Linked DNA regions of Homo sapiens. The protein of the gene in region 7 purifies or fractionates together with the protein of the main gene of each other region. This does not show direct contact. Each region holds a gene or a part of one and is shown on either strand. Other genes may lie near its edges. The genes, in order: IPO11, EXOC2, FADS1, ERAP1, INTS1, TBC1D9B and FPR1.

Region 1 (3,320 bases), on a different chromosome or scaffold from region 7:
GAGCTATTTACCAAGCCTATTTAAACTTGTGAGTTTTAAAAATGAAGCAAACTCTTTCCCTGAGATAAGCTTTTTACTTCTTTTGCAAGGTAGCTATTTCAGTAATATTTGGTATGGCACTATAATGAAATCTGTCAGGAATTAGAAGGATGAGTACTTTACTATAACTGAAAAATGAGCATGTTTGAGAATTTCTGATAACACTAATGAGTTAGTGTTTCAAATGAAAATAATTAAGTCAACAAAAAGAAATTCTTCTTGGATCAGTCTTCAGGACTGAGTAATACTGATAAAGAAATATCACTTGAAAGGAGCTTTTTGTCTTTAAATGAAGATAAATTAAAAGGGTAACTAGGATTTGCCACCTGCAATACTGATACCTACTAGCACAGAATCAAAGCTAGAGTATAAAAGAAAATTCTCTATAAGTCACTGGGCAATTTTTAAGAACTCATTTTTTGGGGGGAGCAAGAAAAGTAGTCAGACAAATCAGTCCAAGGTGAGGTATCTTTGGAAAATTTAATTTGGACCATATTTTCTTCCTCTTTCTGAAAACATCAAATATCCCCATACAGTTTGGGTTCCACAGCTTACAAAGGGGCAGTGGGTTTCCCGCAGTTACATACTGTACCCAACTTTCTATAGAAAGATAAAACATTTTCCAACCTTGCTTTTGAGTATTTCCTAAAAAATGCTTTAAAGTTTCCTTACAATAAATGGCAAGTAAAACAAAGTAAGGCTTTTTTTTTCTCCTTTTCCCCTTTTTATGTACTGCATGTTCGAGGAATAAGGAAGGAAGACTAGTTCCATCAGAGTACTAGTAATCCTAGTACCCTGGGGATTACTGCTGGATCCTCCCAGGTATACCCCTATTATTGAGGCCCTGATGCACCCCTGCACTGAGGAACCTGAGAAGGGTAAGTACTAAACAGTCTGTCATAGCCACGTGGGACTGTCACAGCACAGGTGGGACTGGGAGTCGCCCAGTTCTTCTCGGTGCTCACAGGAGTAACAAAGGAACTAGGACTAAACCATAACCAGAGGTCTCCCACGTGGTACTACAGTACCACACGTTCACTTTTGTGGCCCTTACAAATGCACATTTATAGACCCAATGTATTTACTGGAAAAAAAAAGAAAAAAATGCCTTTACTAATTTCTGTATCAAATTATTAGAATGAAAATAAAAGCATTTGTCTGATAAAACACACTTTCTATGTTAGATGAAAATAACTCCCTTGCAAGATAAGCTTGGTAATGTGTATTTGTCACTATTTATATATTTTTGCTTAGTACACACATTTCTTTAATAGCATCATCTGAACAGCTTTGTCATTTTTCAAACCTGTAGTTTCATTAGCTTAAAAAAAGGATAAGGCAGCCAAATTTAATGAATTTTGGTTGCAGAAAAACATCTCAGGTATTAACTCTCATCTTCAAATATTAAGAGCACATAATTAAAAGATAAAGTTTCTTCTCTTAACAGGAAACTAAGCAGCTATTGTCATCAAATGTACTTTTACATGTACTTTTTAGTGAAGGGCCCCCTCATAAATATAAAATTAAATTCTTTTGAGGAATAGGTTTGTGATTTTAGTTATGCAGGATTTACATTTATCCTTTACATTTTGTAGTAAAAAATGTGTGGTCTTTGCTTATTTTCATGAAGTGATTTCTTCATCTCAGCAGGCTCTCACATACAAACGGCAGGCTGGGTTACTCAGCTTGTTTCTGAAAGGGGAGGCAGCCACATGTCATGTGCTCTTAGAATCCTTGCAAAAACTCCTGTAGCTGGGTGACAATCTCCGTATCCACTGTTTCCATGAGGGACTGGAAACCTTGTTCTCCTAGCATCTCCTGCTGTGCCTTGAGCTTCTCGTAGATGAACTGCTGCAGTGACACTGTATGAACAGGGTCCTTCAGGGCCAGCTGTGGGATACAGAGAGGAGCAAGACTGTCAAAAAAGCAAAACAAGTCTCTCCTACCTGCAATTTACAAAAGTTCTTTGTAATCTCTTCTACAGTAACAAAATTGCTTCTGCCTCTCTTCTCACACAGATTCTGTACTAATCTCATGGTGGAAAAATCTGTCAAAGAAAATTTCATTCAATTAGTCTTAACTTCAGTTCCCTAGCGCCCCCTGAACATGTTTTCTGATCAGGCATTTCTCAAGAGCTGGGGGACTCATTCATTTAAAGCATCAAAGCCTAGTAGAAAGCATTCTAAAAGAAACAGAACATGCTGAAGAACATTTAAATACAATTGTCCAGCATTCTCCTTAGGAAGATAGGGTAGGGTAGGCCACTGTGGCAACCCAGTGATGCCCTCAGGATCGAGAAAGGAGACAGTGTTTGCCCTACCCTGGATTGCAATACTATTTAAATTCCTGTATATGCTTCTGGCTGAAAAAAAAAAAAAAGGGACTCCTCGTCTCCCACTGGGATATTTGGAAAACAAAAGGAGTGTAATTTCATGAAAAATAACCCAGAAGTCCACTCCTTAAAGATAACAATGACAAAAGAAAATATTTTGGCTTCTTCTATCCCTGTGGTATGCACATACATACATATACATAAAACACACCTGGACCCAGGCTAAGTGCAATGTGTGATATACCCGATTGAATCCTGCAACCAAGAGTGTTACCGGAAAAACTGGTAAAATCTAAATAAAAGTCTGGAGTTTACTTAATAATAATGCACCGATGTTGGTTTCTTAATTTTGATAAATGTACCATGTATATTTGGAAAATGTAGGGCCAGGCTCGGTGGCTCATGCCTGTAATCCCAGCACTTTAGGAGGCTGAGGCAGGCAGATCACAAGGTCAGGAGTTCGAGACCAGCCTGGCCAATATGGTGAAACCCCGTCTCTACTGAAAATACAAAAATTAGCCTGGCGTGGTGGTGCACGCCTGTAGTCCCAGCTACTTGGGAGGCTGAGGCAGGAGAATCGCCTGAATCTGGGATGCGGAGGTTGCAGTGAGCTGAGATCGTGCCATTGCACTCCAGCCTGGGTGACAGAGCGAGACTCCGTCTCGAAAAAAAAAAGAAAAAGAAGAGGAAAGAAAAATGTAACATACAATGTTAACATTAGGAAAAACTGGGTGAGGGGCACATGGGAACTCTTTGTACTATTTTTGTTACTTTCCTGTAAACCTAAAAGTATTCCAAATTAAGAAGATTACTCTAAAAAATGGACTCAGCAATTAGAAAAGTATACCCCTCTGTGGCCATTTGGTATAAGGACAAACCACTCTACAACTGACATCTCATCTTATGTATTAGCTTATATAAGTGTCTAATAATAGAATTTCTAAGCAGC
Region 2 (3,500 bases), on a different chromosome or scaffold from region 7:
TCTACAGTCTGCCTTTCCTTCCTTTTATCTTTCTCTAAAACAAGATTTATCTAACAGAGGTCAAAGAATTCAGTAAGATAAACACAGCTTTCTTGACAGTATCCAAAAAAAAAAAAAAAAAAAAAGAAGCCTGGAAAAGCATTTTTCTGGCCAAAAGCATTATCTTCTCTTGGTTTCTACACCTATTCTTACTTTCATCTTTCATTTTCTTGCTTCCTGGAATCTCTACATCTAGCCTCTCTTTCTTTTGAAAGTCTTTTGCCAAACACTTTCAGACGGACAGAAGGATGACTGGATGTCTGTTCACGGCCTAAAGGGCCCTCCCCGTGTTCCCTGATGCTACAGGATCCGCGCCTTTCTCTGATCATTGGCTATTCTGAGTCTCTATTAGAAAGACAGAGCTGGCTTGTGGAGGGCTAATGGCGATGCCAGGGATTCCTGTCCACAGAAATGCACATCAGGTGAGGATACCACTGGCTCCTCCGAGACGGAGTGACGGTCTTGCATCTTTCGGCATTTCTCATTGCGTATGTCTCCCCTCTGGACTTTCCTTTGGGCTGGATTTAACATCTTATTGGTTCTTTCCTTAATTATGAGTTAAATAAAAGCTCTGACATCTATTTATTTTATATTTGTATAAGAATCATGATTTTCCCTTTTTCAAAAATTATCCTTTAATATTTTACTTTATCCCATGGCTGAGCAAATATTTCTGAAACTTAAGTAACAATCTGTACAGTAACATCAAAATCTGTTAATTTTATTCCCACTGAAGTACTTATTGGATAAATGTACATAATGTTATTTTAAAATTTTAAAACACTTTAGTACCCTGGAATCTTAAGTCATTAAACAAAAACTTTTCCTATGTGGCAGAACAATGAATAGTATATATCCAAGAAGAGCAAAGAATCCTGTAAGGATGAACACTTGTGAGGCACTTGCTATGCTCCAAGTTGTTTACCTCCTCACTTCCTGATTCCTCGCATCGACCCTAAGGAACAGGTACTGCATTGTACACCTGAGGAAACTGAGGCAAAAGGAATCTAAGTAACTTACTCAATGTCATATTGCTAGTAAGTGGCACAGCCCAAGTTCAAATTGAGAGAGTTTTGCCCCACACAAAATCAAACTACCTCTCAGAGAAGAAAAGAACATTTTAAGAAAGCTAAGTACTTTCAGTGCCATTATTCTTCACTGCCATTACCAATCTCATCAAATAATTAACCTGACACTTATTAGGAACACTGCTGTTAGACGCAGTTCAGGCCAAACCACACTGTGGGCAGCAGCAACAGGAATAATAAAGAGATTCAAAGGCTGAGAAGGTGTGGGGAGGTAGAGAGAACAGGGGTGGGGGTAAACACCAAAACAGAAGTTGAAGAAATCACGTTTATGATAGTAAACGTCTGAATGAACCCTAACTGATAATTTTGTCCAAGTCTCATACTAAATATATTTTGTATATCTCCATATTCCTTTTGCCCATGTATAAAACTGGCTCTTGGTTATGAAGAGCAGCTCAGAGGGCCTCCTGCTCCACACTTCTCAGGCAGGTTGGAAAGAGACTGGCTTTCCAGAGCCTTGAAGCACCCATAAGGGGCTTACTATCAACTGCAAGTCTATTCATGCTTAAAACTGTGCTCAAATAAATACCCAACTGTTACCATTATTTTCTAAACCTTCTCAATCTTTGAACTCTTAATTTTGGAGGCACTGGAATCCTTAAACGGCTCTAGAATGACCCATACTGCAAAAATGTTTCAAAGATGTTACCTAGAACAGTCAAAGCTCACGTGAAGCTGCTAAGCCCCAGACTTTTTCAACACGTGCTACTTTCCCAAGACAAACATGCTACTTCCCCTCAGCCAGGGGCAAACCCCAGCAGGTGAAAATGAAACTAATGATCTTCAAGAGTAGGCTTGAAGATTATATATAGAGAGATTATTGGAGAATTTTCCCCATTCCTAGAAAACCCTAAACTAAAACCATGGTTAAAGTATTAACAGTGCTAATTTGTCACTTTTGGTAAGAGTTTACAGAGCAATACTCAGTATACAATTCCATAAGCAGAAGCACTAAGGCCAGAAGATAAATTAGCTGCGATTAACACATTAGGTGAATTGTTTAAGTAGAAAGGCACTAATTATAAAAGTTACTAAAACACTGTACTAGGAATTCAGAAAAAAACTCTAGATTCAGTTATAAGGCATCTTGAAAGATATCATTTACCTGGCAGAATTCTGATGATTAAAGTTAAATAAGTCTGGATTAAGCAAGAATGAGTAGACATTATAGACAAAATTAAAGACCAGATTAGACCTGGCTATTCTAAAATACTTCTAGAAAAATCAAAAAAACAGATTATGTATGCTATTTTGACTTCAGGTGCCATCTACCTATTTAAACTTAACCATCTCTAGACAACATACTAAAGACTTTTCTTTTTCACAAAATGCAAAATCAAAAAACTGAAGAGGTAAAAGTAGTTTTAGCCACAAGTTTTAACTAACTGCAAAGTTTACTTGCAGCATAGCTAACAAGGCTTCATAAATAACACCCATCTCCAAACAACTGAGGTGTCTTCAACTGTGTTTCCTGGGATGTTTCTGGAGTTTGAGTCCCTTTCCTGTAAGTATATAAAACTTTTCAGGAACTGAAAAATAAAGAAGACTGAAAGCAAGATGGTACTCACTTTTCAATCTCAATGCCAAGCGGGTTAGCAGGACGTAAGGACAAGGGCGGAATTCCTTTGTTCCTGTCAGTGCGCATATCATAATAATTCATTTCATCAACCCACACAGCAGACTGATCCAAAATGCCTACAGAAATGAGGAGCATATGCTTAATAAGATGAAGCCTACCCCAGGCACCTTCTACGTCTGGCCTATTGTCTGACTTCTTAAAGACCTAATACAAAATGCCTGTTGGATAATCTTTAAGAGATTTGAGGACATAACAGCTAAATTTTTAAAAAATGACTAGTAGTTTAATTATAAGCACTAAAAAAATTTATAAAAAGGCAAAAATTACACCTCTCAGCTTATGGTTTCATTGTACATTACTCAACAGAGAAGACAAATTAAGCTGCTTAGACAAAGTTTTGCAATAACAAACATATTTTACAAATAATAAACACTACAATTAAACATTGTTAAATGTAGCTGATTAAATCTGCACAAAAAATTCAGAAAGTCAGTAAGATGAAATAATATGACCTATAATATCTGTTTATTCAAGAGAATATTCTGAAATCATGTAAACTCTTGGAAAATGTCTGGGAAATATCCAAGCACAAAACATTCGAGTAAAATGTTAGCTCAGTGGAAAGCTTCTGGTTTATGATAAATGCCGAAAAACCATTATGCATATATGATTTTATATTTAATACTGTGAGTTTCTGCTTCTGGGTTCCATAAGCTACCTAAGGACATTTCACTACAAATGAAAACCAAATGTTTTTTAAATGGTTCTTGAAAGCTCTCAAGAAATATCTTTTA
Region 3 (3,500 bases), on a different chromosome or scaffold from region 7:
CAAAATGAGGTGCCTTTTATGCAGTAACGGTTTGCTGACTGAACTCTCTAGGGAGGATGGTGACTCCCTCCTGGGCAGCCCCCATCTATTGCCTGTTGCCTTCCAGAACTTCCAAAATGGCAAAAGCCCCAGCCAGCCCAGCCCCAGTGTCTTGCCCACACTGACAACATCGTGGGCATCTTCCCCAACTCCCCTATGTTGGCTGCCTCCTATTCCCCAAGACCTTTCCACTGATACCTCCACGCACCTCCACAGAGAGGATCTTCCCCAAGGCAAAGAAGAAGGGATGCATGTTGATGTCTGGGTCTTTGCGGAAGCAGTTGGGCTTGGCATGGTGCTGGAAGTGCATGTGGTTCCACCAACTGGCGGGGGCCCCCTACAGAAAAGCAGGGACACGAGTATGAAAAGCTTCCCCCAAGGCAGCCCTTCATTGCCTGGAGTTTTAGAGAGCTCCTCCCCATCCCACTGACCTTCAGGTGGCCAATCACAAAATGATGTAGCAGATGGTTCCACTTTGAGGTGCTGAAGACCGACAGGTGCCCAAAGTCATGCTGCAGCCAGCCAGCCTGGGCCTAGGTGAGAAGAGTCAACACTGAGAGCAGCCCACCAGCCCCAGTGTCGCCTTCACTGACCTCGATGCCTCCTTCAGCCTCTCCCACTTCCTTCATCTGCCAAGGCCTGTGATGCACCTCAGGAGTCAGGAAACATGGGTCCTAGTTCTGCCTCTGCCACTGACTCACACGTGAGTTGGGGCAAATCACCATCCCTTCTCTGTTCTTCTGTTTCGCCAGCTCCGAAGCTCATGACTTTTTTTTTTTGAGACAGTTTTGTTCTTGTTGCCCAGGCTGGAGTGCAATGGTGCGGTTTCAGATCACTGCAACCTCCGCCTCCTGGGTTCAAGTAATTCTCCTGCCTCAGCCTCCCAAGTAGCTGGGATTACAGGTGCCCGCCACCAAGCCTGGCTGATTTTTTTGTATTTTTAGTAAGAGTCGAGGTTTCACCATGTTAGCCAGGCTGGTCTCGAACTCCTGACCTCAGGTGATCTGCCCACCTTGGCCTCCCAAACTGCTGGGATAACAGGCGTGAGCCACCATACCTGGCCTGTTTTGAGAGTGTCGCTCTGTTGCCCAGGCTGGAGTGCAATGGTGCCAACTCGGCTCACTGCAACCTTCGCTTCCCAGGTTCAAGCAATTCTCCTGCCTCAGCCTCCCATGTAGCTGGGATTACAGGCACCCACCACCACTCCCAGCTAACTGTTGTATTTTAATAGAGACGGGGTTTCACCATGTTGGCCAGGTGGTCTTGAACTCCTCACCTCAAATGATCTGCCCATCTTGGCCTCCCAAGGTACTGGTATTACAGGCGTGAGCCACTGTGCCTGGCCTTTTTGTATTTTTAGTAGAGGTTTCACCACGTTGGCCAGGCTGGTCTTGAACTGAGATCAAGTGATCCGGCCACCTTGGCCTCCCAAAGTGCTAGGATTACAGACATGAGTCACCACACCTGGCCTGAAGCTCATGACTTATGATGGACTGACATCTAGAATACAGAAAGGACTGAAACATGAGCAGAAGGCTTGCCAAATGGGTCCTGACAGTCAAGAATTAGCGCTCAATCATTATTAACATATTGGGCAATGTCAGTGGTGGGGAGGGAGCCAAGCTTTGCTAAGAAACCAGAAACTTGGCTCCTGGCACAGGTGGGCTGTGGCAGAGAACAAACCGCATAGGAAGAAGAGAACCCTTGGAGAAGCAGCTAAAAAGGCAGTGAGAGAAATGAAGATGTCCATGTGGCTAAAGAGCAGACAGGTCAAGACAGCAGAATGCATGTTCCTGCACTCACTCCTGCATACCTTCAGATCTGCCCTGCTTGGAGGGCAGGCACTCTTGGCCTTCCTCAAACACCCAAGGAGCTTTCCCCAGGGATGCTGAGCATTGCTGTGCACTTGACAAGCCAAAGGCTCTCACCTGAACTGCACTGAGCAGCACCGCACAGAGGAGGAAGGGCAAAAAGGACGTCCCAAAGACCCAAAGGGTGAGCCAGGCTGCACCATCCAGCAGCAAGATGTGCAGCAGGTACAGCAGGAAGAAGACATGGTTGGCCTTCATGAGCCCCATCCGCTCCACTGTGGCCCGCAGCTCCCGGAACTCATCTGTCAGCTCTTTCTGCAGAAGAGGAAGAGGAGCTGTTATTCTTCTCATCTGCACCCCAATGCTACTGGAGACAAGGGCCCTCTCAGGCTCAAGGACCTCCCACTGAGGTAGCTGTGGGAAGTCCACAGTCCTAGGCAAAGATACCACGACAATGAGGATGACAGGAGGAGGTGCCATGGGATAGTGCCTAAGAGTTCAGGGGACTAAGTCCTTGCTCTGCCATTTACTAACTGTGTGATCCTTGGCTGTGTTGCTTAACCTCCCTGAGCCTGTTATCTCATCTGTAAATGTGTAAGAGTTATGAGTTTATGCTTGGTGCATAGTAAGTGCTCATATGATAACAATGATGATAACAATGATGGCAGCCATGGTAGTGGCAGCCTTGGGGGAGCCATAGGTTGCAAAGCCATGCTCCCTTGGGCCTGTGACCTCATGACTATGCAAGAGAAGCAGGGACCTCAAGACTCCCCAGAGCTACTACTGACTGTGATTACTATGACTGTGATCCCATCTAGACTCTCCTTCCACCCCCTCTCTGTCCCCCTCAACAACCAATAGTTGCGACATAGCAAACACAGGGTCTTACATTCTTGGTGGGCTCAAAGCTGGGCTGCTCTGGAGACAGTTCTCCAATCAGGAGAGAGTTCATATACTTCTTCACAAGGCCCTTGTTGATGTGGAAGGCCACAAAGGGATCCTGCAAGTGCCGGGAGAAGATGAAAGGTGAGGGAGCCAGCCCCCTGGACTCCGGCAGTGTTCGCACCAAAGGCCATCCTCCTGCCCGCCAGAAGGCTGTACCCAAGTTGAAGTGAGAGGTGAAGCCAGATGGACTTCCTGGGTCGAGTGCAGACTTGGAGAACTTTTCTGTAGCTAGAGGTTTGTAAAATGCACCAATCCGTGCTCTTTAGCTAGCTAGAGGTAAAATGGACCAATCAGCACCCTGTAAAATGGACCAATCAGTGCTCTATAAAATGGACAAATCAGCAGGACATGGGCAGGGACAAATAAGGGAATAAAAGCTGCTCCCGGCCGGGCGCGGTGGCTCACGCCTGTAATCCCAGCACTTTGGGAGGCCAAGGCGGGTGGATCACGAGGTCAGGAGATCGAGACCATCCTGGCTAACACAGTGAAACCCCGTCTCTACTAAAAATACAAAAAATTAGCCGGGCGAGGTAGCGGGCGCCTGTAGTCCCAGCTACTCGGGAGGCTGAGGCAGGAGAATGGCGTGAACCCCGGGGGAGGGCGGAGCCTGCAGTGAGCCGAGATCGCGCCACTGCACTCCAGCCTGGGCGACAGGGAGACTCCGTCTCAAAAAAAAAAAAAAAAAAAAAGGCTGCTCCCCCTCAC
Region 4 (3,500 bases), on a different chromosome or scaffold from region 7:
AGACCCTGTCTCGGGAAGAAAAAAAAAAAAGTTAAAAAGAAAAAGTAAAAAACAGGGAAAATTCATTTAAGAAGTATGTGAGGAAAACTTAATAGCCTTAACAGATAGTGAGATCCTAAAAATATGTAATCCTAAAAATGGCTCATACCTGTAATCTTGGCACTTTGAGAGGCCTAGGCGGGCGGATCACGAGGACAGGAGTTCGAGACCACCCTGGCCAACATGGTGAAACCCCATCTCTACTAAAAATACAAAAATTAGCTGGGTGTGGTGGTGCGCGTCTGTAATCCCAGCTACTCAGGAGGCTGAGGCAGGAGAATTGCTTGAACCCGGGAGGCGGAGGTTGCGGTGAGCCGAGTTCGCGCCACTGCACTCCAGCCTGGGTGACAGAGCAAGACTCCGTCTCGACAAAAAAAAAAAAAAAAAAAAAAAAAAAATCCCCAACAACCAAGGGAATCTCAGGCAAAGTCAAAGGTCATTAACAGGCAATTCATAAAAGAAGAACCTATAAATCATTAACAAACATATCAAAAGCTGCTCAACTTCCTTAATCAAAGTTACGTAAATTAAAAAGAGATCATTTATTTGGGGACCTTTTTTGCTCTAAAAAGACTGCCAATATACACTATTGGTGAGGGGTAAGAAAAAATGACAAAGTTTATCAAAAATTTATAGGCTCTTTGGCTTACCAATTTTACTTCTAGGCATTTATTCTAAAGAAATAATTTACAAAAATGCTCATCAAAGTGTTGTTGATACTGAAAAATTGGAAACAATTTCATTTCCATTCCCGAGGGATTAAAGATATTAATGTACAACTATGTATTTTAATAAAATCATTAAAAAGATGTCTAGTAATAGTCATTTATATAAAACATCTTCCCAACATATTAAGTTAAAAAATTTCCTTGTAAAAGAGAAAATATAAGAATTCTATTTATATAAAATAATATATATGCATATCCAGAAAGAAGTCTGGCAGAATATTCCAGTGAAATAGAAGTAGTGGTCAGTTCAGGGGGCTATGAGTGAAATAAATTTTACTTTCTTACCTTGATAAAATAATATGGAATTTGAAAAATAAATTAGTATAATCTACCAACAAATAAAATTCCATTTTAAAACTGAGCATAAAATCTCCCCCAAATAAGTCTCCTCCTTAAAAACAGAACCAAAGCAAGGTGAGAAGAGATCTCTAAAAAAGTTTTAACTGAGATAAAAGTATTTCCTCTAATATGTTGCTAGTAGGATTTGCTGAAGTCCTAACCTGTAGTATCTGTGCATGTGACCTTATTTGGACATAGGGTCTTTACAAGTATCATGGAGTGAAGAAGAGGCCACCAGGCTGGGCCCTAATCTGGTATGTCTGGTTTCCTTATAAGAAGATGGAGACTGGGACATAGGAAAATAGAATGGCCATGCGACTAACAGAGGGAGAAACTAGAATGACGCAGGTGCTAGGCATGGAGTACCAGGGATCCACGGCCACCACTAGATGCTAGGAAGATATAAGGAAGGATTCTACCCAGAGTCTGGAGGGAGCACGGGCCTGCTGACACCTTGATTTCAGACTTCTAGCCTCCAGACCTGAGAGAGAATACATTTTGTTGTTTATAGCTACCCAGTCTGTGGTACTTTGTTACAACAGCCCTAGGAAACTAATACACAGTTCAGGAAAATTAAACATGTTTATTATGTCTCAGAAATCGAACCAAATAAACAAATAGATATTTACTCTGATAGAGCTGGGGGAAAGAAAATTGGTTAAAATAGAATTTTAAAATGAGATTTAAAAAGCAAGGGAAAAAGCCATTTTTAACACTATAAAGAAGATGCAAAAGCAAAACTGAAGAAAAAGTTCAACAGCAAAGGGAATTTTAAAAGACAATCAATCTGAAATAATGAATTTAGCGTGGGCAGCACTTGCAGTTTAAAAGAAAAAGAGAAAAAAAAATACCTCAGTTCCCCTTCCTTGGTTCTGTAGGTGCTTTTGTAAAATCCGTGGAAAGTCTCCGAAAGATTGCCAGCATAGTGAATGACAACTGTGTACGGGAGCCCGACAAGGAGGGGCTCGGGAGCCAGCAGTGCAATTTGCTCCTGACGGGGGTGTTCCAGGACCTGCAGGGGTTCTTCCGATAGCCTCTCTCCAGCTCCCTTCCTGAGGGTGGCCCTAGATATCTGCAGGTGGTGACTATGCAGGATGATGGTGCTGGTGGGCTGACTGGCTGTGATTTCTACTTTCGTGGTTCCCCAGAAGGTCAGCGTGGTAAGGTTTGCATGGATCAAGAGATCATAATGAACTGGGATGACGTACTCAGGAAGTCGTATTTTATTCCAAGGAAATGGTGTCCCATCACTACGTTTTGGAGATGCTTCAGTGCTCTGACACCATGAAGGAGTGGACACAGTTAAGAGAGCCAACAGTGAGGAAAGTAGAAATGACATGGTTGCAAGGGACCATTTGAGGGGCAGAAACACCATCTTCTTGCTCTACCTACCTAGCGGCACAAATGTACAAAAGCAAAAATATATGTCATTAAAATGTTATTGACACAGCATAATTTCAGAATGTATCCACCCAGCATTCACAGAAATAGGCATAAACTTCCAAAAGTACTAGGTCTTTTCCTGAAAGTAAAAGGACCTTCCCTATGTTATGGTTTCATATAAGAAAGATGTTTACAGTTAGCAACAATCATTAACACGTACTAGAAAGCATCATTTGATGTTCAAAGTTTAAATTAACTCTACCTGTCAGGGTTCTTGGTTGAAAGCAACCGAACAAGCTCTGGCTGATATAGGCAGAAAAGGAATCATTAGGGGATCCTGAGTGGCTCACTACACGGGTCACAGAGTTGCAGGACATTTGGGAAACCAGGCTCATGAAAGAAGCAAAACCAGAACCATATCAGAGGAACATCTGATCAAGCACCACTCCCCACTGACACTGGACCTTGGAGAAAGTCACCCTAGTACCCTGGAAATCAAATGCTGACACAGTGGCAGCCACCACTAGAACGAGGTCTCCACTTCCCCTGTAAGTATATGTAATGGTAACCTTTAATAACATCAGTGTCTTCCTCAAATTGTCATGCCAAAAGTTAATTACCTATTTATTTAGCCAGGAAGAGCTTAAAGAGCTTAATTTTCCCAGTAGTTTGTGGCAAACGTATCAATCACCTGGATTGATTTTAAAGACATAAAAGCAATGTGAATTTCAGGCCAGGCATGGTGGCTCACGCCTGTAATCCCAGCACTTTGGGAGGATGAGGTGGGCAGATCACAAGGTCAACAGATTGAGACCATCCTGGCCAACATGGCGAAATCCCGTCTCTACTAAAAATACAAAAATTAGCTGGGTGTGGTGGTGCGCACCTGTAGTCCTAATTACTTGGGAGGCTGAGGCAGGAGAATCGCTTGAACCTGGGAGGCAGAGTTGCAGTGAGCTGAGATTGCACCACTGCACTCCAGCCTGGCAACAGAGCAAGACTCTGTCTTTA
Region 5 (3,500 bases), on a different chromosome or scaffold from region 7:
GAACCCACGGGGTCACCCATGGGGCTTGAAGGGGGACAGAGCTGTGAGGCCAGCCGGCTGGGGAAGGACAGTGTGCGGCTGTCTGGACAGAAGCAGGGGCAGACGGTGCATCTGAGACTGCGTGAAGGGTGGCGTGCCCGTGGACGCCCTGGAAGCAACTGGAAGGCGGGGGTCCGGGGGAGGCTGCGGCTGGGGCTTGGAGTCACGTGGACGCAGACGGCAGCTGAATCCCTACAGTGGCGCTGGGACGCCAGCATGGGAGTGGGAGAAGGGTGGCACCCAGGATTGTGGAGGAGGAGCAGGATGGTGCTGTGACCATGGGAACAGCCGCCCAACTCCCACTGGCCCTTCCTGCCGCAGCCGGCCCGGCACCCCGCAGCCCCGCCCAGCCCGGCACACAGGAGCCCCAGGCGGCAGCGCACTCACTTGCGGTCACTCTCGGGTGGCCAGTTGTCCCACTTGTAGTAGGTCTCCGGCTGCTCTGTGAACAGCACCTTGTGCAGGCTGGGCAGGCAGAGAAGAGCCCTCAGTCATGATGTGGGTGCTCAGGGACCAGCCCCGTTAGTTCCAGGGAAGGGACCCCGCTCCCACGGGCCCCAGCGCTCAGAGGCCGGGCTGCCTGGTGCCCAAGCTCAGCACCTCCTCACAGCACCACCAAAGAACCCAGGGACCACTCACGGGGCTGCCAGGCTGCACAGCGGCCGAACGGGGCTGCCGGGCTGGACAGCCCTTTACAAAATCGCTGCAGAGAAATGCAGCCCCAGCCTGGCAGCCCCACCCCAACCAAGGCAGAGGCTCCACGGGAGGCTCCAATGCACAGGGTGACCTGCCTGGAGCCTAACGGCTGCTGCTGTCCGCAGAGAGGGGACAGACTCCCGTGTGGGGGCCTGGCTTGTCCCGGCTTAGTGGGGTGTGGGGCAGGGGCTGTGCGGGGCCTGGCTTGTCCTGGCTCAGTGGGGTTTGGGGCAGGGGTTGTGCGGGGCCCCGGCTTGTCCCGGCTCAGTGGGGTGTGGGACAGGGGCTGTACAGGGCCCCAGCCGCACCAGTGCACGTAGTCCTTAGGGGCGAGCTTGCTGATGGAGGGGACCACAGTGTGGAGCCACCAGACGGCATCCCGCTGGATGGCGGCAATCTGGTTCTGGAATGAGCGGAGCACTTCCAGGTCTGAAACAGACACGCAGCTTAGTGGCCCATCCGAGCCATGGGCCATGAGGGGCTAAGGCACCCCTGGGGGTCCAACTCAATGCTGGCACTTGGGAGGGGGTAACTCAGGGCACCCCCAGCTTCTGGACGATTCCCAGCTGGAATAACACCCTGGGAGGCATGGAGTGACCCTGACGCGTGCGTGGGTGACTGGAATCCTCCTGTTCCGAGTGACTCGCTCCGGTCAATGGCTTAGAGGGCTTCTGCGGCCCAGCCTTCCTGTGAACCCATAATCAAACACCCGGACTGCCCCAAACACCACCTCCCCTCCCCACTCCCGCCCGTGGCTGGGGCCACCACGCCTGCAATGCCCCCATGCTGGGCCAGAACTGGAGCACACAAAGGACGCTCATGGGAACAGGGTCTGAGCCTGCAGCTGGGGTGAGGCCCGGATGGACAGGAACGGGGACGGCAGCTTCCAGGCTCCGTGTCCCCGAGTAGCCGTGCTGCGGGACCGCTCCTGCCGGGCGCTCAGGGGACAGTGCAGCCTCGGAGAGCCGCCAGCCACCAGCCTGGACCCGAGACCCCCACCAAGCAGGGCCAGGCCACCCCCACATCCTTACTCCTCTTTTCTCCTTTGTCCCAGGCGATGCCGGCCTCCTTCACCTGCGCTGTGATGCCCAGCATCATGGACACGGCCAGGACGTCGGTGATGTGCACCACGAAGCGCTCCTGCAGGTGCAGCACGGGGTCTGTATCCAGAAGGGACACCCGGGAGCCCCACTCCACACCCACGTGGGCGCGGCACGGGGTCTGTATCCAGAAGGGACACCCGGGAGCCCCACTCCACACCCACGTGGGCGCGGCACGGGGTCTGTATCCAGAAGGGACACCCGGGAGCCCCACTCCACACCCACGTGGGCGCGGCACGGGGTCTGTATCCAGAAGGGACACCCGGGAGCCCCACTCCACAAACACGTGGGTGCAGCACGCACACACTTGCACATGCGCACACATACACACACACAAGCAGGGATCCAGAGAGAGAGCCCAGGACCAGTTGGGAGAGGGGCCTGACAGGAGGGGCACCAGGGCCGGTGGCCCACAAGGTCCTAGTCTGGCCACAGGAGGGAGGTTCAGTCAACAGAGATCCACAAAGCCCCGTCCGCAAAACAGGCCACCCCGGCAGGCTGGCTGCGAGTTGGCTGCAGGGACCTGGCATCTCTGTGATCCACCCTCACTGTGCCTTCCAGCGCCAGCTCCCTCCACAGCCCTCGAAAAGTCTCCAACCCAGCCAGGCAGCCCGCAGCCCCACCCTGCCTCCCTGCTCCCGTGCTCCCCTTGCTGCCGGCAGCAATTCATCCCATCCAGCCTAGGGGTTGCCAGTTCCCCTGTGCTTGGTCAGCCCCTCATAGGTCCTCACACAGGACAGAGCCTATGCTACCCTCTGGGACGCGTCACCGCAAACAGCCTCACTCATCCCCGTACCCACGCTCAGCCAGAGCATCCGAAGGGGTGGAGTGTGCATGGGACCCAGGACGAGGGGGATGGCGGCGCGTGGAACCCGCAGTGAGGGAAAGGCGCCCCAGCGGCGAGGGCTGGCACCTTGAACTCCATCTCCAGGTACTGCGGCTCCTTGCGCTCCTGCATGAGCCCCAGGCAGAAGGCCTGGAAGTTGATCTCGTGCTTGGTCTGCTTGATGATCTCCCGCAGCAGGGCCCGCGAGGCCCGCAGGTAGTCGTCCTTGTTGGTCAGCAGGTCCTGGAACACCATGGCCAGGAACTGGGGCAGAGAGAGGCCGCGTGGGAGGCTGCCCGACAGTGCTGTCCCTGTCACAGGCCCCTTCCCGCAGCACCAACAGGTATGGCGCCCGAGGGCGCTGCAGTGGGTCTCAGACAGTGTGGGGTGCGGGGTGGCGGGCTCCTTGCTCTACTGGCTGCCAGCCCTTGGCGAGCAGGGATCACATCTGATTCCCCTCTCTGAGAACCGGCAGGTGGGGAGTCGGTCCTCGTGAAATGAGGAGGATTAATTAACGGAAGCTGGGGGTGCGGGACACCAGGCGGCAAAGCCATAGAAGCGCGTGTGCCATCTCAGCCCACCCGTGCGCCACGGGCTGAACGGAAACCAAAGGCCACCACCCAAGATCTGAAAGGATCTGAAAGGACGCACTCCTGTCTCAAAATGCCAGGCCGCGAAGACTGAACGCGGAGCTGAGAGCGGCTGTGCCTCCCTCGTGTTTCACACTCCATAGAGCCCACCGGGAGGCCTAATGCGCTGGTGGCGATGGGAGCATCTCCCGAGCCCGCTTCAAAGGAGACACGGAAATCCAAGGGTCCTACAGCCAGGGCTACAGGGAC
Region 6 (3,500 bases), on a different chromosome or scaffold from region 7:
GGTCTCACTGTGTGGCCCAGGCTGGTCTTGAACTCCTGGGCTCAAGTGATCCGACCTCCTCAGCCTCCTAAAGTGCTAGGATTACAAAGTGTGAGCTACTGTGGCCTGGCCTATTTTTAATTTTTTGAGGAACTCCATACTTCCTCCCCAGCAGCTGCACCATTTTATATTCCCACCAGCAGTTCACAAGGGTTCCGATTTCTCCACATCCTCATCAACACTTGCTATATTCTGTTGTTGTTAGAGTGATGGGCATGAGGGTATCTAATTGTACTTTAGGTTAGCATTTCTCGCAGCTTTTGATTTTAAATCTAGGCATTTTCCTGGCCAAGTCATATGGCTTTCTGTTTGCCTTAAAGGTCTTGTTAGCAGCTAGGGCTGTGTGTGGTCCTAGTTGTGCACCGAGTGGGTGGCCTTGGTGTGGGGCTCTGGCCTTGTGGCTCACCTCCACATCAGCTTGGTCATAATCCCACCTCCAACACCCAACACCACTCCGCAGAAGTGTGATGTGTTGATGTTCACCTTCTCTGGTTTCCCAGTGCCTTCTGACCCAGTTTGAAGGAGTTGGCAGACTCTCTGTTCCATCAGTTTCCTACAAATTGCCTTTTGACATTTCCCAGAGTTGGGTAGGGGCAGTTTCTCATTACCGGATGCCCAGCCCTCCTGAAGAGGCAGATTTGCTTGTAGGAGGAGGCCATTAATCTTCACCACGAGAACCTGAAAAATAATAAAAATAACAACAACAAAAAGAAGATCATGTGGGCCCTTGCAGGGAGGGGTGGCTGGGAGGGGTGGGGAGAGACAGTTTTATTTGCTGGCCAGCAGTGCAAGCCTTCCCCGGCTGTCTCTGTGCCCGGCAGGCAATGAACATCGTGACCTCGGTGCTCCTGCTCTATGGCAGTGAGGAGGAGGCCTTCTGGCTCCTGGTGGCCCTGTGCGAGCGCATGCTGCCCGACTACTACAACACCAGGGTGGTGGGTGAGTGTCCCCGGGTGCTGCCTCGCCTGGGTCTCCAGGTGCCTGCTGGTTCCATGAGGGTGGCAGCCCTTCCCAGGCCAAGCTCCAGGCTTCACGTGGGTTCCCTAGGAGTTAGAGGGTAGTATTACACATTCGGTGGTTTATAAAAGTCCCCTCAGAGCCTAAATTCCTATCCATCTAACTTCCTGTCAACTTTTTGATTATGGAAAATTTCAAACATCAAAACTAGAGAGTATATATCCCCCATGTAACCTGATGCTCAACTTTACTGAACTCATATCCAGTGAAATCTGTTATGAAGTGGAAATGGACTTGCAAGAGTGTTTAATTAGGTTCATATTTAAGCATGTTATCCTGTCCTTCCCCTGCTGTCTGGTGTTTGGAGTTACCGCTCTTGGGGTCCTTCAGAGCTGCGTCTATTCACAATCATCAGGATGGGACAGAGTCATTGAGGGTGCTGTTTACCTCTCATGCCTTACGGAGAAATCAGTATTTCCCCAAAATAAAATTCAAGTGTAGTAGAAGAAATAGTTATTTCGCCCAGTGGTTTGGGAGCTGTAGAGAGACTTGAAGGGTTTTTTCGTCCTTGTTTTCTCCCAGCACTCCAAGTCTCCCTCAGCCCTCACTGCACAGCTGGCAGGGCTGGAGTGGCCAGGGCTCGTACGCTGCAGGTGAGGGCCCACCCAGGCCACAGGGTGGGCTCACCATCAGCCTCGCTCATCCTGCCCGCAGGAGCCCTGGTGGACCAAGGCATCTTCGAAGAGCTCACGAGAGACTTCCTGCCGCAGCTCTCGGAGAAGATGCAGGACCTGGGGGTGATCTCCAGCATCTCGCTGTCCTGGTTCCTGACCCTCTTCCTCAGCGTCATGCCCTTCGAGAGCGCCGTGGTCATCGTCGACTGCTTTTTCTATGAGGGCATCAAGGTGATCCTGCAGGTGGCCCTGGCCGTCCTGGACGCCAACATGGAGCAGCTGCTGGGCTGCAGCGACGAGGGCGAGGCCATGACCATGCTGGGCAGGTGACATGCCGGGTTCCTTCTCCTGCTGGGGGCTCACAGCAGAACCCCTCACCAGCCCCGGGCACTGTCCAGTCAGCCTGAAGTGACTGTGCCCACCAAGTGCCAGGCTGCAGCTGGACCCGGGGGTGCTCTGGGGTCAGGAGGCGGCTCCTTTCTAGTGGGAGATGAAGCAGCGCTCAGTGATAGGTGCCAGGAGGAGTAAAGCAGGCACTGCGGGCAGAGCATGCTGGCTGGAGGGCCACCGCTCAGATGTAGGGTTGGAGATGCTTCCCCTGAGGGCAAACCAGAGCCAAGATCCAGTGACCACAATTCCAGTTGGTGGCACAGCTGGGCATTTCATGTCCACCAGGTGGTCCCGGTCATACCTCTCCAAGCTCAGCTGCATTGCAGCCCCCATGCCCTGGAGGGAGCAGGCCTGCCCTGGGCCCGCTGGAACAGCTGGATGAGCTGATGTCCCACTAGTCACGCCAAATGTCCAGGGTCATCCCAGCCCCTCCACCCCCTCCTTAGTCCCCACATCCCATCTCTTGCAGATTCTGTCTGGGATCCAGCCCCTTCCCTTCAGCCTGCTGCCTCAGCCCAGGCCCACCATGCCCTTTCCCTGGGGTTCCCCTCTCAGTCTTTGACCTGCCTGCATCCCATGACTCTGATCAGACCTGGCCCTGCCCCTTCCCTGGGTCCTCTGTACAAAGGCACTGTCTGAGCCTCCAGCCTGGCCTTCAAGCCCCGGCCCCTCCTGGCTACACTCTGCCCTGCCCTGAGCTCTGTGCAGTCCCACCCTCCTACATAGCGTATTTGTCCGGACTGGAATGCCCCCAGCCCCCAGGAACAGCCTGGGACTCTGCCACTTGCCCATGGCCAGGCCAGGTGCTGCCTGGGACTCTCTAGATCCAGCAGGGTTGTCACCTCCCTACTGTGGGCCTAAGTAGCTTTTGGTCCACACTGATGTTAAGATACTCAGCCTGTGGCCGGAGTCTGTGGCTGGTTTTCCTGCCGCTTCCTACAATAGGCGGATAGGGCCTCCTCCAGAGCAGGGGTCTGACTGGGGATATGACCAGGGCTATGGGCATGGGGAGTCAGCTACCTCCTCCCACCTGAGTGTCAGGCTCAGCCCAGGGACCCAGAGAGGCCATGAACTCTGGCGGGGCTAGGTCAGCTGACAGAGGTAGGGCTCCATCCCCAGGACTGTGTCCCTAGAGAAGCTGATTCCCTGGGCTGCAGCAGGCCTCCCCACACCTGACTTTCTCCTGCGACTCAACCTTTGATCCCTGAATCTTCTTGGCCAGGGCGAGAAGGTCCCACATCCCCAGGGCCCCGCCAAAGGGAGGAAGCTCGTCATCCTTCCAACTGGGTAGGATCTGGGGTTATAAGGCGTTCCTGCCCAAGGGACCCCCCCACTGACTAAGAAAACAGCCCAGCGTCCTCAGGGTTAGTGCTCAGGCCTTGTCGGGGGCACTGCCCTGTAGAGGGCTCCCCAACTTGCTGGGGGCGCTGCCAGGGCACA
Region 7 (3,976 bases):
GCGGTGGGTGCTTTTAGTCCCAGCTACTCCAGAGGCTGAGGCAGGAGAATCACTTGAACGTGGGAGGCGGAGGTTGCAGTGAGCAGAGACTGCGCCATTGCACTCCAGCCTGGGCGACAGAGCGAGACTCCGTTTCAAAAAAAAAAAAAAGATATGCAACTTCTCCACTCCAAATTCTGCTCGCTCTCTCTCTTTAAGGTCATGAAATCTCCCTTTCCTCTCTCATCGTGGGAAGCAAGGCATAGTACTTGGTTAGTTTTCCAACATAGGTCAAATGGATCCGTGAGTGATACTAAACGACGTATAATCAAGTATTATATCCAATGGATTCTGTGCTAGAAGAAGTCAGAACAACAGACTCTGTTTCCACTCTCGTCTCTGCGGTTACCTTGGCCAGATGGATGGGAGGTGCTTCTCCATCCATTGGATGGGCTCAGCACTCTTGGGGATGTAGAAGACCGTGATAGAAATAATAGTCCAAATATGTATTGGATATGACATTTCATTAGATCAGGTATGCAAAGTGCATGTCAGGTTCTTGCTGAGAGCTGGCCTTCTCTCTTTTTTTTAATTTATTTTATTTTATTTATTTATTTATTTTGAGATGGAGTCTCTCTCTATCACCCAGGCTGGAGTGCAGTGGCGTGATCTGAGCTCACTGCAACCTCCGCCTCCCAGGTTCAAGCAATTCTCCTGTCTCAGCCTCCTGAGTAGCTGGGATTTCAGGTGCACGCCGCCGTGCCTGGCTAATTTTTCTTTTTAATTGTATTTTAGTAGACATGGGGTTTCACCATGTTGCCCAGGCTGGTCTCAAACTCTTGAGCTCAGGCAGTCCACCTGCCTCAGCCTCCCAAAGTGCTAGGATTACAGGTGTGAGCCACTGCGCCCGGCCTGGTCTTCTCTTCTAATGCTTGCAGCAGCCTTCCTCAAAATTGTTACTATGAGGGTCACTGTCTTTATGGTACCCATTTTGCAGACGAGGAAAGTGCGACTTAGAGCATTTCAGTTAATTCCTTAAAGTCACCCAACAGCCCAGGCTGTCGAATTCCAGCAAAAGTCTCTTTCTGCCTCTGCCCTGCCACGCTACTGGCACAGAAGAGCTGTCTAATGCACTAGTCACTCACCACATGTGGTTTTCAAGCACTTGAATTGTGGCTAGTCCAACTGGAGACAGGCTGTAGGAGTAAAATACCCATCAGATTTCAAAGACTTAGTATGAAAAAAATATTGTGACCATCTCATTAATAGTTTTTATATTGACTACATGTTAAAATGATAATAATTTGGCTATTTAAGTTTAGGTTAGATATTTTATTAAAATTAAGTTCGCATGTTTCTCTTCACCTTTTTAAAGTGCCTACTTGACACTTTGAAATTACATATGTGTCTCACATTTCTAATGAACTTTGATACTCTACAATCTCAGAAACAACTCAGAGATGTCTCCCTCCCCTACCACCCATCCAACCACCAAAATACCCTGAGGACTCTTTGTCCTCAAGAATCTCTAAGGCAACCAGTTCAGAAGATTGTTGCAATGAATGATGAGGATTCTGCAATAATGAGCTGGAACATACCAGAGAGGAAAACCTGTGCAATTTTGTCCAATTATGGTTCAAGGGAAAAATCCTGTGATTTGCAATGAACACAGGCCTTGGTGGCTGCCATCGATGAAGGACTTTATGCTTGATAATCATTGTACCACATCCTCAACTTTCTTGCCTCTGATCTCAACAAACTCAGCATTGATTATACATCATCATCCCTGTGTGACGGAAGAGGAAACTAGGAGCTTGATGAGAAATGACAGCCAATGTCTGCAGATTCATGAGAGGGCAGGGCTGTATTCCGCTACTGGGTCCTATGCACCATGCAGAACCAGTGTCTTCACGTGGAGACTCATCACTGATCCGAAAGGTGACTGCTTCTGTATTACACTCATTTCCCCATGACCCATCATAAAGTCGTTAGGGCTCTTTTGCTTTCTCCTGAAAGCTTCAAACCAAACATCCTTTCCCATCCCGACTCAAGCCCTCAAGCTGATGCCCTTGCCTCTTGCTCCACCAGATTCTCCTCCTGCTGGCTCCTGCATCACTGTTCTCTGCCCTCATCTCTGTAACCAGAAAACAAGTGTTTCCATCCAAGAATTACCCTCTACTGGTCCCATAAAACTCATTCCCCCATTTACTCAAGAACTTCCCTCCTTCACTTATCCCTTCTCTCTCCTGCAGCCTCATAGTGTCTCTATATTCCATCATTCCCATCAGGACCCCAATAAAGTCTAGAGCCTATTTGTTTATTTATTTATTTACTTATTTATTTGAGATGGAGTCTCACTCTGTCACCTAGGCTGGAGTACAGTGGTGCAATCTGAGCTCACTGCAACCTCCACCTCCCAGATTCAAGCAATTCTCCTGCCTCAGCCTCCCAAGTAGCTTGAATTACAGACGCCCACCACCACGCCTGGCTAATTTTTGTATTTTTAATAGAAGTGAGGTTTCAACATGTTGGCCAGGCTGGTCTCGAACTCCTGACCTCAAGTTATCCACCTGCCTTGGCCTCCCAAAGTGCTGGGATTACAAGCATGAGTCACCGTGCCCGGCCTGTTTAGAACCTCTTTAAAAAAATTATTCTTCAACTCCACATCCTTCTTCAAACAAAGAGTCTATTGTGTTCACCAGTGTATTAAGTGTGTCTATGTCAAGCTACCCAGTCCCCCAGAATATGTTTCTTACCTGGACTGTTCACCAGCTGTGGTCTTGCTCTGGGTAGTTCTAGGTCTGGGTCTCCTGGGGAGAGTGACTCAGGCTCTAATGATTGCAGCAAAACATACACCAAGGAACAGGAGGAGGGGTAAAGGAACTAAAACCAGCTGGGTAGCAGGAAATAGGAAGTCTGAGCTTCTTCTGATTTTTGATGGCCCCAAGAATACACCAATATACTGTCTGCTTTAATGGCATTAGGACAGTGGGCTGGGCCTGTTTAGAAACTCATGTACCTGACTGTATTTCTCAGCCTCAGTCTCTGTGGGATGCAGAGGTTCAGTGCTCTCAACAACAAGGGCCAAGAAATCCAAGTGTCCGGGCCCCTGCTCCCTCCAAGGGTCAAGGTAAAGAAAGCAGCAAGCACTGTGGTGAGAAGAATCAGAGGGAGGCAATGAAAGGAAGAGAAGAAGTCATGAGGGATGGAGACCAGAAACACAGAGAGAGGTAAGGGAGTGGGGGAAGTTGAGACAGTTGGCAGGACAGCGCGTCCACACCCATGCACACCACCAAGATTAACCCCATAATCCTCTGATCTTGTGGAAGCTCATTTGTAGTCTTCTAGCCCAAAGAAATAACCGTTTTTCTGAAATGTTAAGCATCCTTCCAAGGGTATCAGAGTGATATGGAGAAATATGGTAAGACAGTTACAGAATCAGAGATAACGACACTGATTCTAAAAGCATTATTACCAAGGCATTGTTGCATTAAGACTGTTTTTTCTTTTCTTTTAGAGACAGTATCCTGCTACGTTGCCCAGGCATGTCTCAGACCCCTGGGTTTAGTGATCCTCCTGCCTCAGCCTCCCCAAATGCTGGGATTACAGGCATGAGCCGGGCTGTTTTTAATTCTAAGTAATTTATAATTTACAATTACACCTAACAATGGCTTCAACAAGGGGTGTCCAATCTTTTGCCTTCCCTGGGCCACACTGGAAGAAGAAGAATTGTCTTGGGCCACACATAAAATACACTAACACTAACGATACCTGATGAGCTAAAAAAAAAAAAAAAAAAAAAAATCCCCCAAAAATCTGATAATGTTTTAAGAAAGTTTATGAATTTGTGTTGGGCTGCATTCAAAGCCATCTTAGGCCATGGGCTGGACAAGCTTAGCTTAGAACCAAGACGAAATTTATGGTTTACTTTACAAGAATTTTGCAAGAGGGTAATACTAGGTTAGGTTATATCTGGAAAATATCATCAAGAACTACA

Evidence for each region.
Region 1: the proteins of FPR1 (region 7) and IPO11 purify together in Homo sapiens (co-immunoprecipitation; 2 studies listed by BioGRID and IntAct, with this or other methods). This does not show direct contact.
Region 2: the proteins of FPR1 (region 7) and EXOC2 purify together in Homo sapiens (co-immunoprecipitation; 2 studies listed by BioGRID and IntAct, with this or other methods). This does not show direct contact.
Region 3: the proteins of FPR1 (region 7) and FADS1 purify together in Homo sapiens (co-immunoprecipitation; 2 studies listed by BioGRID and IntAct, with this or other methods). This does not show direct contact.
Region 4: the proteins of FPR1 (region 7) and ERAP1 purify together in Homo sapiens (co-immunoprecipitation; 2 studies listed by BioGRID and IntAct, with this or other methods). This does not show direct contact.
Region 5: the proteins of FPR1 (region 7) and INTS1 purify together in Homo sapiens (co-immunoprecipitation; 2 studies listed by BioGRID and IntAct, with this or other methods). This does not show direct contact.
Region 6: the proteins of FPR1 (region 7) and TBC1D9B purify together in Homo sapiens (co-immunoprecipitation; 2 studies listed by BioGRID and IntAct, with this or other methods). This does not show direct contact.

The regions. Positions count from the first base shown.
Region 1 is NC_000005.10:62,625,763-62,629,082, reverse strand, and holds the end of IPO11 (importin-11), read right to left. Parts: intron 1,930-3,320; coding exon 1,765-1,929; 3' UTR 501-1,764; downstream 1-500. UniProt on the Homo sapiens protein: Functions in nuclear protein import as nuclear transport receptor. Serves as receptor for nuclear localization signals (NLS) in cargo substrates.
Region 2 is NC_000006.12:627,140-630,639, forward strand, and holds part of EXOC2 (exocyst complex component 2), read right to left. Parts: intron 2,823-3,500; coding exon 2,696-2,822; intron 1-2,695. UniProt on the Homo sapiens protein: Component of the exocyst complex involved in the docking of exocytic vesicles with fusion sites on the plasma membrane.
Region 3 is NC_000011.10:61,810,504-61,814,003, forward strand, and holds part of FADS1 (acyl-CoA (8-3)-desaturase), read right to left. Parts: intron 3,066-3,500; exon of another isoform or gene 2,851-3,065; coding exon 2,740-2,850; intron 2,166-2,739; coding exon 1,968-2,165; intron 573-1,967; coding exon 471-572; intron 377-470; coding exon 248-376; intron 1-247.
Region 4 is NC_000005.10:96,801,446-96,804,945, forward strand, and holds part of ERAP1 (endoplasmic reticulum aminopeptidase 1 isoform b precursor), read right to left. Parts: intron 2,499-3,500; 5' UTR 2,482-2,498; coding exon 1,958-2,481; intron 1-1,957. UniProt on the Homo sapiens protein: Aminopeptidase that plays a central role in peptide trimming, a step required for the generation of most HLA class I-binding peptides.
Region 5 is NC_000007.14:1,494,390-1,497,889, forward strand, and holds part of INTS1 (integrator complex subunit 1), read right to left. Parts: intron 2,926-3,500; coding exon 2,749-2,925; intron 1,876-2,748; coding exon 1,767-1,875; intron 1,165-1,766; coding exon 1,044-1,164; intron 505-1,043; coding exon 427-504; intron 1-426. UniProt on the Homo sapiens protein: Component of the integrator complex, a multiprotein complex that terminates RNA polymerase II (Pol II) transcription in the promoter-proximal region of genes.
Region 6 is NC_000005.10:179,873,398-179,876,897, reverse strand, and holds part of TBC1D9B (TBC1 domain family member 9B), read left to right. Parts: intron 1-860; coding exon 861-978; intron 979-1,710; coding exon 1,711-1,996; intron 1,997-3,500. UniProt on the Homo sapiens protein: May act as a GTPase-activating protein for Rab family protein(s).
Region 7 is NC_000019.10:51,749,079-51,753,054, forward strand, and holds the start of FPR1 (fMet-Leu-Phe receptor), read right to left. Parts: upstream 2,801-3,976; 5' UTR 2,736-2,800; intron 1,176-2,735; exon of another isoform or gene 1,125-1,175; intron 1-1,124. UniProt on the Homo sapiens protein: High affinity receptor for N-formyl-methionyl peptides (fMLP), which are powerful neutrophil chemotactic factors. Binding of fMLP to the receptor stimulates intracellular calcium mobilization and superoxide anion release.